Regions from separate parts of the Homo sapiens genome. Here region 1 is linked to region 2. The links come from fine-mapping of genetic effects on gene expression. A gene starts in region 2. The other region holds a variant in brackets. All regions are shown on one strand. Distances are between the middles of the regions.

Region 1 (5,367 bases), 25 kb before region 2:
ACCTCTCAGCCAGGACCCTACCTCTTACATGAATAAGCGCCCGATAGAGCTATCCTGTCCACGCACAGGGAATATAAGGCTAAATAGGACACAGTTCCTGCCCCATGGCAGGGGGTTCAGAGCTTCCTAGCAGGCTTTACTTAATGAACCCTGGAATGGGGCCAGGGCAGAGAGATGTTGATGCTGGTACGGAGAGTTGGCCCTGGCCTAGACAGAGTCTACAGTTGAAGCTGTTGTTGATCACCGGCAGCATTCCATGCCTCAGGGCACGCTTCCCCATTACTGACACTCCTGGGCTTCCTTCCAGCGTAACGCCTGCTCTCCATGCAAGCTCTGCAGAACTCAGGGCCCTGCACACTGCTACCTAGCCTGTGGCCACTGGGACTAAGTCCAGGACCTTGAAGAAGGCCCTGAGGAGGACCATTTGTCTCCGCTTCTCTCAGGGGTCCCAGAGAGGAAGCTGCCAGTCTTAGGACATCTAGTCTGTCCCCTGTCCCAAGGAAGGACGCGTGAACATAGCAGCTGCTGTCCCAAGGGTCCCTTGGAGGGAAAAGCCCTCCTGGTCTTGGTAAACATGTAGGATGTTTGATCCCAACTGCCACCTCCACGTTTCCCAGCCTCGGGTCCTCTTCTTCCTCCTTGCTTATAATGTGGGGTAAGGGAGGGGTCCAGATGTCTGTAAGGGAAAGTGTGAGCAGGCAGCCAGTACCCAGAGACCCAGAGCCTTATTTAATAAAGGCTGGTGGAGTTGCCTTGAAACCAAGTTAGACCGAGTGACTCTCAGGCTGCCAGCAAGGATCTGTGCTTGGGGGCCAGTCCCTGTGTGGATCCTACGTGGGATAGGAAAATCTTCATAATGCTGTTCTATGGTATTGTTTTCTTGCCGATTCTTTTGCCCTCCAACCAGGATCGCTCATCACACTATAATTGTTACTGCACATCTGCGATCCCTGTTAGAGGTTCTGTAGCTCCACAGGGTAGGGGCTGGGCCTGGCTTGTTCATACTTGTGTTCTAAGTACCTAGGACAGTGTGGGCATATAATAGGCCTGATACATGTTGGTTGTAAAGAAGTCTCCTCAGTCTAATCCTCATTGTTGTGTAGATGATCTCTTTTTACTCCCTGCTTTTAAGATATCATTGGTGTTTTGTAGTTTTGTCACAATGTATCTAGATGTTTATTTATTCTATTTATTCTGCTCAATATGTTGTACTTCCTGTATGTATGAATTCACATCTTTTATCGTATTTTATCATATTGGAAAGTTCTCAGAAACCATCCAGATATTATTTTTCCTCTGTCCTCTGTGCTCTCTCCTTTGCCAACTCTGATTAGGAGTGTTCTAGACCTTTTCATTCTGTACTCTGTGTCTTTTAACCTGTCTCCTGTATCTTTCATCTCTTTGTGTCTTGGTGATACATTCAGGTAATCTCTTCCAGTCTGTCTTCCAGTTCACTAATTCTCTCTTTGGTTACATCTGATGTGCTGTTTAATCCTTACATGGAAGGGTTTTTTAATTTTATTTTTTGGTTGTTGTTATACTCATATGAAAATTACTCTACTTGGCCAGGCACAGTGGCTCACACCTGTAATCCTAGCACTTTGGGAGGCTGAGGCGGGTGGATCACGAGGTCAGGAGATGGAGACCATCCTGGCTAACACGGTGAAAACCCCGTCTCTACTAAAAATACACACACACAAAAAAATTAGCCGGGCCTGGTGGCAGGCGCCTGTAGTCCCAGCTACTCGGGAGGCTGAGGCAGGAGAATAGCGTGAACCCAGGAGGTGGAGCTTGCAGTGAGCCGAGATTGTGCCACTGCACTCCAGCCTGGGTGACAGAGAAAAAAAAAAAATTACTCTACTTTTTTTCCTTTTTTTGAGACAAGTCTCGCTCTGTAGCCCAGGCTGGAGTGCAGTGGTGCAATCTTGGCTCACTGCAACCTCCACCTCCCAGGTTCAAGCGATTCTTCTGCCTCAGCCTCCCAAGTAGCTGTGATTACAGGCACCCGCCATCATGCTGGTCTTGAATTCCTGACCTCAGGTGATCCGCCCACCTCAGCCTCCCAAAGTGTTGGGATTACAGGCGTGAGCCACCGTGCCCGGCCGAAAATTACTCTACTT[T/C]CTTTTCTTTTTTTTTTTTTTTTGAGACGGAGTTTCATTCTTTTGCCCAGGCTGGAGTACAGTGGCACGATCTCGGCTCACTGCAACCTCCGCCTTCCGGTTTCAAGCGATTCTCCTGCCTCAGCCTCTGGAGTAGCTGGGATTACAGCCGCACCACCACGCCCAGCTAATTTTTGTATTTTTAGTAGAGACAGGGTTTCACCATGTTGGCCAGGCTGGTCTCAAATTCCTGACCTTGTGATCTGCCCACCTCGGCCTCCCAAAGTGCTGGGATTACAGGCGTGGGCCATCATCATGCCTGGCCCTACTCTACTTTTCTTTTTCTTTCTTTCTCTTTCTTTCTTTCTTTCTTTCTTTCTTTCTTTCTTTCTCTCTTTCTTTCTCTCTCTCTTTCTTTCTTTCTTTTTTTTTTTTTTTGAGACAGAGTCTCTCTGTCGCCCAGGCTGGAGTGCAGTGGCACAATCTCGGCTTACTGCAACCTCCACCTCCCGGGTTCAAGCAGTTGCCTGCCTCAGCCTCCTGATTAGCTGGGACGACAGGCGCCTGCCACTATGCCTGGCTAATTTTTGTATTTTTTTAGTAGAGACGGGATTTCACCATATTGTCCAGGCTGGTCTTGAACTCCGGAACTCGTGATCCACCTGTCTCAGCCTCCCAAAGTGCTGGGAATCCAGGCATGAGCCACCGCGCCCGGCCCCTACTCTACTTCATTACACTATTTTACTGAGATATAATCTATAGTCAGTAACATGTACACATTTAACTGTATAATATGATGAATTTCAACAAATGTACACATCTATTAATGTGGCTAAAGATCCAGAACATTTCTTTCATCCCATAAAGTTCCCTTGTGTCTATTTTTAGTCAATTTCATCCCCCAGAAGGAACTACTACTCTGATTTTTAAAACCCAATGATCTGGCCGGGCGCGGTGGCTCACGCCTATAATCCCAGCACTTTGGGAGGCCGAGGCAGGTGGATCACCTGAGGTCAGGAGTTCAAGACCATCCTGGCCAACATGGTGAAACCCTGTCTCTACTAAAAATACAAAAATTAGCCAGGCATGGTGGCAGGCGCCTGTAATCCCAGCTACGTGGGAGGCTGGGGCAGGAGAATTGCTCCAACCTGGGAGGCAGAGGTTGCAGTAAGCCGAGATCATGCCACTGCACTCCAGCCTGGGCAACAGAGTGAGGCTTTGTCTCAAAAAAAAAAAAAAAAAAAAAAAATGCTGGGCTCGGTGGCTCAACCTGTAATCCCAGCACTTTGGGAGGCCGGGCGGATCATGAGGTGAAGAGATCGAGACCATCTTGGCCAACATGGTAAAAACCCATCTCTACTAAAAATACAAAAATTAGCTGGGCATGGTGGCATGTGCCTGTAATCCCAGCTACTTGGGAGGCTGAGGCAGGAGAATCACTTGAATCCAGGAGGCGGAGGCTGCAGTGAGCTGAGATTGCACCACTGCACTCCAGCCTGGTGACAGAGTAAGACTCCATTCACCCCGCCCCCACCCACACACACACAAAAAGGATTAAAAAAAAAAAAAACAATGATCACTTTACCTGCTCTAGATCTTATAAATGGAGTGCTTATTCAGTTTTTTTGTTTTTGGCTTATTTCACTCACCATAATCTTTTTGAGATTCATCTATGCTGTTGTGTATATTAGTAGTTATTTTTTATTATGAAGTAGTAGTTCATTATATAAATATATTACTTTTCAAATCTAGTATCCTAATGATGGATATATGAATTATTTTTATCCACTGGAGTTTTTTTTTTACAGCTTTATTGAGGTATAATTGACATTCAATAAACTGCCCATATTTAAAGCTTGTGATTTGATAAGTTTTGACAAATGTGTGCACTCATGAAACCATCACCATAACCACAGTAATGAACATATTGCCACCCCTAAAGTTTCCTTATGTCCCTTTGTAATCTCTTCTGCCCCTCGTTCCTCAGACAACCACTGATCTGTTTCTGTCACTCTAGACTAGCTTGCATTTCCTAGAAGTTTATGTAAATAGAATCCTACAGTATGCATTCTTTTTTGCCTGCCTTCTTTTACTCAGAATAACTATTTTGAGATTCATTCATGATATTGTATGTATCATCAGTATTCATCCCCTTTTAGTGCCGAGTAGTATTCCATTGTATGGATGTATCATAATTTGTTTATACATTCACCTGTTGATAAACATTTGGGTTGTTTCTAGTTTTCGCCCATTATGAATAAAGCTGCTGTGACCACTCTCTTTAAGTCTTTGTGTGGACATATGTTTCCCTTTGTCTTTGGTAAATACCTAGGAGTGGAATGTCTGGGTCATAAAATTAGTATGTTTAATTTTTTTTTTTTTTTTTGAGACAGAGTCTCGCTCTGTCGCCCAGGCTGGAGTGCAGTGGTGCCAACTCAGCTCACTGCAAGCTCAGCCTCCCGGGTTCATGCCGTTCTCCTGCCTCAGCCTCCCAAGTAGCTGGGACTACAGGTGCCCACCACCATGCCCAGCTAATTTTTTTTTGTATTTTTTAGTAGAGACGGGGTTTCATCATGTTAGCCAGGATGGTCTCGATCTCCTGACCTCATAATCCGCCTGCCTCGGCCTCCCAAAGTGCTGAGATTACAGGCGTGAGCCACCGCACCTGGCCAGGTATGTTTAATTTTTTAAGAAACCAAAAAAACTGTTTTCCAAAGTGGTTTTACCATTTCATTTCATTTATTTATTAAAATAAAAAAAGGTTTTTTTTGAGACGGAGTTTTGCTCTTGTTGCCCAGGCTGGAGTGCAGTGGTGCCATCTCGGCTCACTGCAACCTCTGCCTCCTGGGTTCAAGCGATTCTCCTGCCTCAGCCTCCTGAGTAGCTGCAATTACAGGTATGTGCCACCATGCCCAGCTAATTTTTTGTATTTTTAGTAGAGACGGGGTTTAATCATGTTGACCAGGCTGGTCTCGAACTCCTGACCTCAGGTGATCCACCCACCTCGGCCTCCCAAAGTGCAGGTGTCAGCCACCGTGCCTGGCCAAGAAAAAATTTTTTTGAGACAAAGTCTCACTCTGTCGCCCAGGCTGGAGTGAAGTGGTGCCATCTTGTCTCACTGCAACCTCCATCTCCTGGGTTCAAATGATTCTCCTGCCTCAGCCTCCCGAGTAGCTGGGACTACAGGTGCGAGCCACCATACCCAGCTAATTTTTGTATTTTTAGTAGAGATGGGGTTTTGCCATGTTGGCCAGGCTGGTCTTGAACT
Region 2 (5,367 bases):
AGAAAGGGCCACAGATGGAGGGCACAGCTGGAAGGTCACATGCCACCCTCTGGGGGTAGGGGGGTGAGTGCTTGCTGGGCCCATCCCTGGATGTCTGGTCCTACCTAAGGCAAAGGCCGAGAAGTCTGGGGAGGCCCCACATTCCTTCTGCCTGGCCTCCATCTGGCTGCAGAGCCGAGCCAGGCGGCCTGACAAGTCGTGGGCTGGGAGGCGACAGAAGACACAAGCCTGGGCGGCTGCCAGGAAAACCCCGCCTAGTGCCAGCCTCCACATGAGGACCACTGGGGGATGGGGCGGCGCTGCCCCAGCTGAGCCGAGGAATGCTCTGCAGCCCTGGCTCCAGCCCTTGCCTGGAGGTTCTAGAATGTTCCAGAACAATGAACAATGGCACTGCCCATCCTCAGCTGGGGTAAAGCTGGGGCTCAAGGAACTGGGGTCCAGAAGGCATCTCCAGCAGGCGATGGGCAGAGAAAGCAGGGCTTCTGTTGTGAGGGGACAGCACCCCCAACCTGGCCCTCAACAGCCTTCACAAGTTTGTGGTTCCAAAAGCAGTTTTATTTTTCTTCTTGTAAATCATGACCAGTGAGAAATAATGTGTGCCCCACCCCCCACCAGTGAAGAAGCTGTGCGTGAGTATCCCACCCGCTCTGGGACCCAGAAATCCCATCCCTTCCCATCTCCTCCCCCACTGTCCCAAACTCTTCGTCTCCTCTCTCTGCCCTGGGCGGCCTTGGGCCTTCCCCAGCTATCTCCTAGCAACAGGTCCATGGTTGCCTCAGCAACCAAGAGTTCCATACAGGCCTCAGAGGCCCAGCTAAGCCCAGTGACTTCTCTTACCTCTCACCAGGAAGATCCCAGTGACTCAAACCCCAACAGGCCCCTCCTGGCTACGTGGTGATGCATATACATGCGTGCACATAAACACACACACACACACACACACACACACCCTGTGATTAAACTACTAATTGTCAACCACCTCACAGGTATACCACAGACACACCCTGTGCCAGAAGAGTCGCTAGGCAACCCCAAACAGGCCTGGACATGCGGACATCACAGACACTGTAGTCAGCAACACAGATATGAACCAGGATGCCAGGGACCTATACATCAGTCAGCCACACGGGCTGATATGCACGCACACATGAAGAAAGGCCAGGACCCACAGATACTACCCTCTTCCCCCTGGCCAGCCCTGCCATCAGTATGGGATTCTTCCAGATGAGGGATGCTCCAGCCCCATTGCCATGGGGACTGTCCTAGCTCCCATACATCAACCTAGGGTGGGTTGTGGCCTTTCTGCCTCCCTCAGTAGATGGCTTGGAACATAGCAAAGAACTCCTCTTCCGATGTTCCAGAGTGTTCTGGCCTCTCATTGGTCAGGCCAGGCCAGGCCACCCAGCTTCAGGAGTAGAAGCCATGGTCCAAGAGACCGCATTGGGAAAATGCAAAGTCCTCCCTTTTCCCCAGACCTCAATATCCTTCCAGGGTTTTGCTAGGTCTAGTCTGGGTAAAGAGATGTTCCCCCCTTTTCCAAGCCCTTAAACACTGAGCTCCAAATCAAGGAGAGACTGGAGGTGCTCAGCCTTAGGCAAGAACAAGCTGAGAGAACCTTCCCTACCCCTCCCAGGGTCAGCACAGGTTGAGACCTTCTGGACCACTTGTGAGTCCTTGGTGGGCTCAGGTTTGGGAATTCCTGCCCACATCTGAGCTCCAGTCAGGTGCAGGAGAGTCCCGACTCTCATAGCTCCTGAAGCAGAGCTGGAAAGAGGCTTCAGGGGTGCTAGTACCCCATTCTCTCTCCTCCCCACAGTCAAACTGAGAACAGCATCCTCAGTGCCGGACAAAGCGCAGAGACCTGGAGTTGAGCAGGTCTTCGGGGTCGGGGAAGACAGAGTCTAGTCGGAAGCCGTGCTCGAGAGCCACCCGCAGCACCTCCTCCAGGAAGCTTGGGGTGCCCACCACCTCCCGCCGCTCTCCTGGCCCCCCAGTCCACAGCGGCTGCAGCCCCAGTCTCCCATACTCCACCTCGGGGAGTTCCACGGGGCGGGGGGCCCACTCCAGATGAAAATGTGGGCTCCCCTCTGCCCTATCCCCACTGGCCACACCAAATCGGGCCCGCAAAGCACCTAGACACTCAGAGTCGGTGCAGAAAAGGTTGGCTCGGAAGGTGTCCACCTGGACGGAGCTCAGCTCATAGTGATGGGGTCCCCGGCGAGCAGAGAAGTGCACCAGGCGGGGGCTGACATCTACATCTGCGTGGAGCAGGGCAGCTGTGGGTGCAGGGGTCCCCTGAGAGGCCTCCAGTTCCCGCAGCGCGTCCAGGAGGGGCCGGATCTGGTAGAAGTCAGCCTCTGCCCTGAGCAGCGCTGTCTCTCCGTACCCACGGGGCAGGTCCAGGCGGCCCAGCCTCAGGAAATTGAGGATGTGCCGGAAGGCCTTGCCATCCCGGTCGATGAAGTAGTGGCCGCCTCCTTGGGAATTGAGGTTGGGGGGCATGGGGGTGCCGGCCCTAAACATGGCCCCCAGCATAGAGTCTGGGAAGCGGGTCAGGGTCTCCAAAGTGGTGGAATATAGTGTGCCCCCCACATTCAGGGTCACGGGGCCCCCAAAGGAGGGGGGCGAAGAGGGCACAGGAGGAGGAGAAATTTTGGGAAGTACAGGAGACACCGAAAGAAAAGAAAAGGCAGAACTTCCTGGGTGTGTGCAGAATTGGGTCGAAGCTGTCAGATTCGCTGGGTTGGAGGCACAGGTGGAGCACACCCAGTAAGGTTTGGGGCTCACCCCGGCTACTTTGGTGGTGGATGGGGAGGTGGTGTCAGGACACAGAAATCCCCAAAAGGTTGAGAGAAGAGATGAAAAGAGCAGAGGGCAGCCAGAGAGGGGAAGGGAGCTTGAGGTCTGGACGTATCCGATTTGGGGTGGTCAGCGACACCCCTCTGTGGTCTTCAGACAGTGGGTTTCCGGAATCCAACCAGCAGGTGACGGTGGCGAGCACAGGGCCGACTCTGAAGGGATGGCCTCCGAGACCCCGGGCAGATCGCTGCCGCCGTGGACGAGTCCAGCCAGGGCTCTGGGGCCACTCAGAGGCCTGGCCTGGCTGCCGGCGCGGGTCCCAGGAGATGGAGGCCGAACTGACGGGAGCGGATGGCGGAGCCCCCTTGTATCCGCCGGGGAGCGACGATGCGTGCTCAGCCCGGGCTGGGAGTGTCCGAGGGCTCTGATGGAAACAGCCAGGAGTTTCGGGACCCGGCCGCGCCGCCTTCCCTGGGTGTCGCCGCAGCCGCTGAGGTCCTCTCCGCCCCCAGGAAGTGGCCTAAGGGCAGCGGCCCGGGGCCCTTTAAGAGACAGCCCCGCCCCTTGGCGCCCCGCCCCCGCCCCCGCGAGGCTCGCGCGGCCCGGGCGGAGGTGGGAGGCTGGAGGCGAGTCTCGGACGCGAGAGACTGGGCGGACTGGCTGGACTGGCAGACGCTGGCGGGACGGGGTGACTCAGGCACGTCGCCCCGGATGTGGCCACGACCGCCCCGCCGCCGCTCAGGTGTGCCCGATCTCACGTCTGCAAGTCGGCGGGGCTGGAGCCTCTAATCCCACCGCTCAGAGCCCGAGGCCCGGCCGGCCCAGCCCGGGAGCCGAGTCCCTCCCAGCGGCTCCCCCGGGGAATTCCCGAGGGGGCGGGTGCTGAGCCGCCGCATTCCGGGGATGCCTTCCAGCCGGGGTGGCCCGGGCGCGCTCTCTCCGCGGCGGCGCGGGGCCAGCGAGCCCCAGGGCCAGCCCCACCCCTCGGCAGGACTGGGCTGGCCACGTCGCCCCAGCCCGAGAGCCCCCGCCCCGCAGCGCCCTGCGCTCAGGCCGCGGCCGAAGCTGCCGCCTCGCTCCCCGGAGTCGCACCTTGCTGGACTGGAGCTCGCAAACCCCCAGCTGCTCCCCGCACCTCGGGAGCCGCAGCGCCCAACACCCTACGGGCCCGAAGGTGGCGCCCAAGAAGTGAACCAGAAGGGAAGAGCGAAGCACGGAGGCTTTAATGGCAGAGGGCCCGGTGGCGGGGAAGGGAGGCAGGCGCGGGCCCCGTGGGCCTCGGGTCACAGCGTGTGGAGGTCATGACTGCGACGGCTCAGCTTCTCCGGGTCGTCTGACGCCATGAGGGAGAAGTCGCGGAAGATGTCAAGATACGTCTCATCTCCTGGGGGAGGGAGGAAAGGCCGGGAGGCGGCTGGGCCCCAGTGCAGAAGGGCAGGATCCGGCGGTTGGGGCCCACCTGGGGACCTCGCGCTCCGAGCCTGGGTGGGAACGTGCGCGCCGCGGGCACTGCGCCAGCACCTATGCCTTGCCAGGGCCTGGCACGTCGCATGCGCCCAATACGCATTTGTTAAATAACGGAATGAATGCAGCTGGGCACTAGGGAGAGAGGTCACCGTGGACCAGAAGCCCAGAGTTCAGGTGTTGGGCCTGGGGGGTGGGGTGGGTGTATTCTTTACCTGCCTGCCCCTGGGCCGCTTCAGCCTCCCTCATCTTTGCCAGTCGTAGCCTGAAGAGGAGGGAATTAAGAAATGAACGACACTATCTTTGGCCGGGCGCGGTGGCTCACGCCTGTAATCCCAACACTTTGGGAGGCCGAGGCAGGCGGATCACGAGGTCAGGAGATCGAGACCGTCCTGGCCAACATGGTGAAACCCCGTCTCTACTAAAAATACAAAAAATTAGCCGGGGGTGGTGGCGCACGCCTGTAGTCCCAGCTACTCAGGGGAGGCTGAGACAGGAGAATCGCTTGAACCCGGGAGGCGGGGGTTGCAGTGAGCCGAGATCGCGCCCCTGCACTCTAGCCTGGGCGACAGAGTGAGACTCCGTCTCAAAAAAAAAAAAAAAGACTATCCTCACCTCCCCCACAACTTCCCATCCTTTGAGCTGGGTTGCGTTCCGTTCATCTGCCCCCACCCCCGGGGTCACGTCTAGTGCTAAAAAGATGCCTGACAGCAATGTTGATGGGCGAATTACGCCTCTCAGGGTGGGCCAAGCATCCTTGCACCCTGCCCGCCCTCCCGCCTGCCTTCTACTCCACGTCCCAGTGCACACTTCGCGCAGCCTTTCTCGAGCCTGGCCCCGGCGCTGGCCCAGCCCCTTTCCGAGGCCCCACAGCACAGGCTTCTGTTTCGGCGTCAGCCCCGCCCGCCCGCCCGAACGTGGGTGGGCGGGGGTGGGGGGAGTCCCAGCGCCAGCCCCGCCCCTTCAGGCATTCTTACAGGGTGACGATGTCAGCGTTGGCTGTTTCCATGGCGATGGTCAGAGGGTCCCTGCCTTCAGAGTCTCGAGCCCCCAGATCAGCTCCCCGTTTCAGGAACAGGCAGGCGAGCCTGGAGAGAAGAGCCA

What was found. PIP is the estimated chance that this variant, and not a neighbour inherited with it, causes the effect.
Region 1: its variant is fine-mapped to the expression of KCTD11 in whole blood (TOPMed, PIP 0.93).

Annotation. Positions count from the first base shown.
Region 1 is chr17:7,375,402-7,380,768 of GRCh38, reverse strand. It overlaps a transcript of TNK1 not described here. Among named protein-coding and RNA genes, the nearest start is that of TNK1, 3.0 kb to the left of the region's middle. RefSeq lists an enhancer at 1-162. The variant T/C (reference allele first, on the strand shown) is at 2,121.
Region 2 is chr17:7,350,111-7,355,477 of GRCh38, reverse strand. KCTD11 (potassium channel tetramerization domain containing 11) reads right to left here and starts at 3,316. Exons shown (of 1, transcript NM_001363642.1): 1 at 534-3,316. The coding sequence starts at 2,652. The coding sequence ends at 1,837. It overlaps ACAP1 (ArfGAP with coiled-coil, ankyrin repeat and PH domains 1), which reads right to left. Exons shown (of 22, transcript NM_014716.4): 20 at 5,241-5,351; 21 at 4,479-4,528; 22 at 4,001-4,183. The coding sequence ends at 4,083. It overlaps TMEM95 (transmembrane protein 95), which reads right to left and starts at 322. Exons shown (of 7, transcript NM_001320436.2): 1 at 105-322. The coding sequence starts at 273. RefSeq lists enhancers at 1-254, 255-781 and silencers at 3,238-4,007, 4,058-4,117, 4,188-4,247, 5,128-5,267.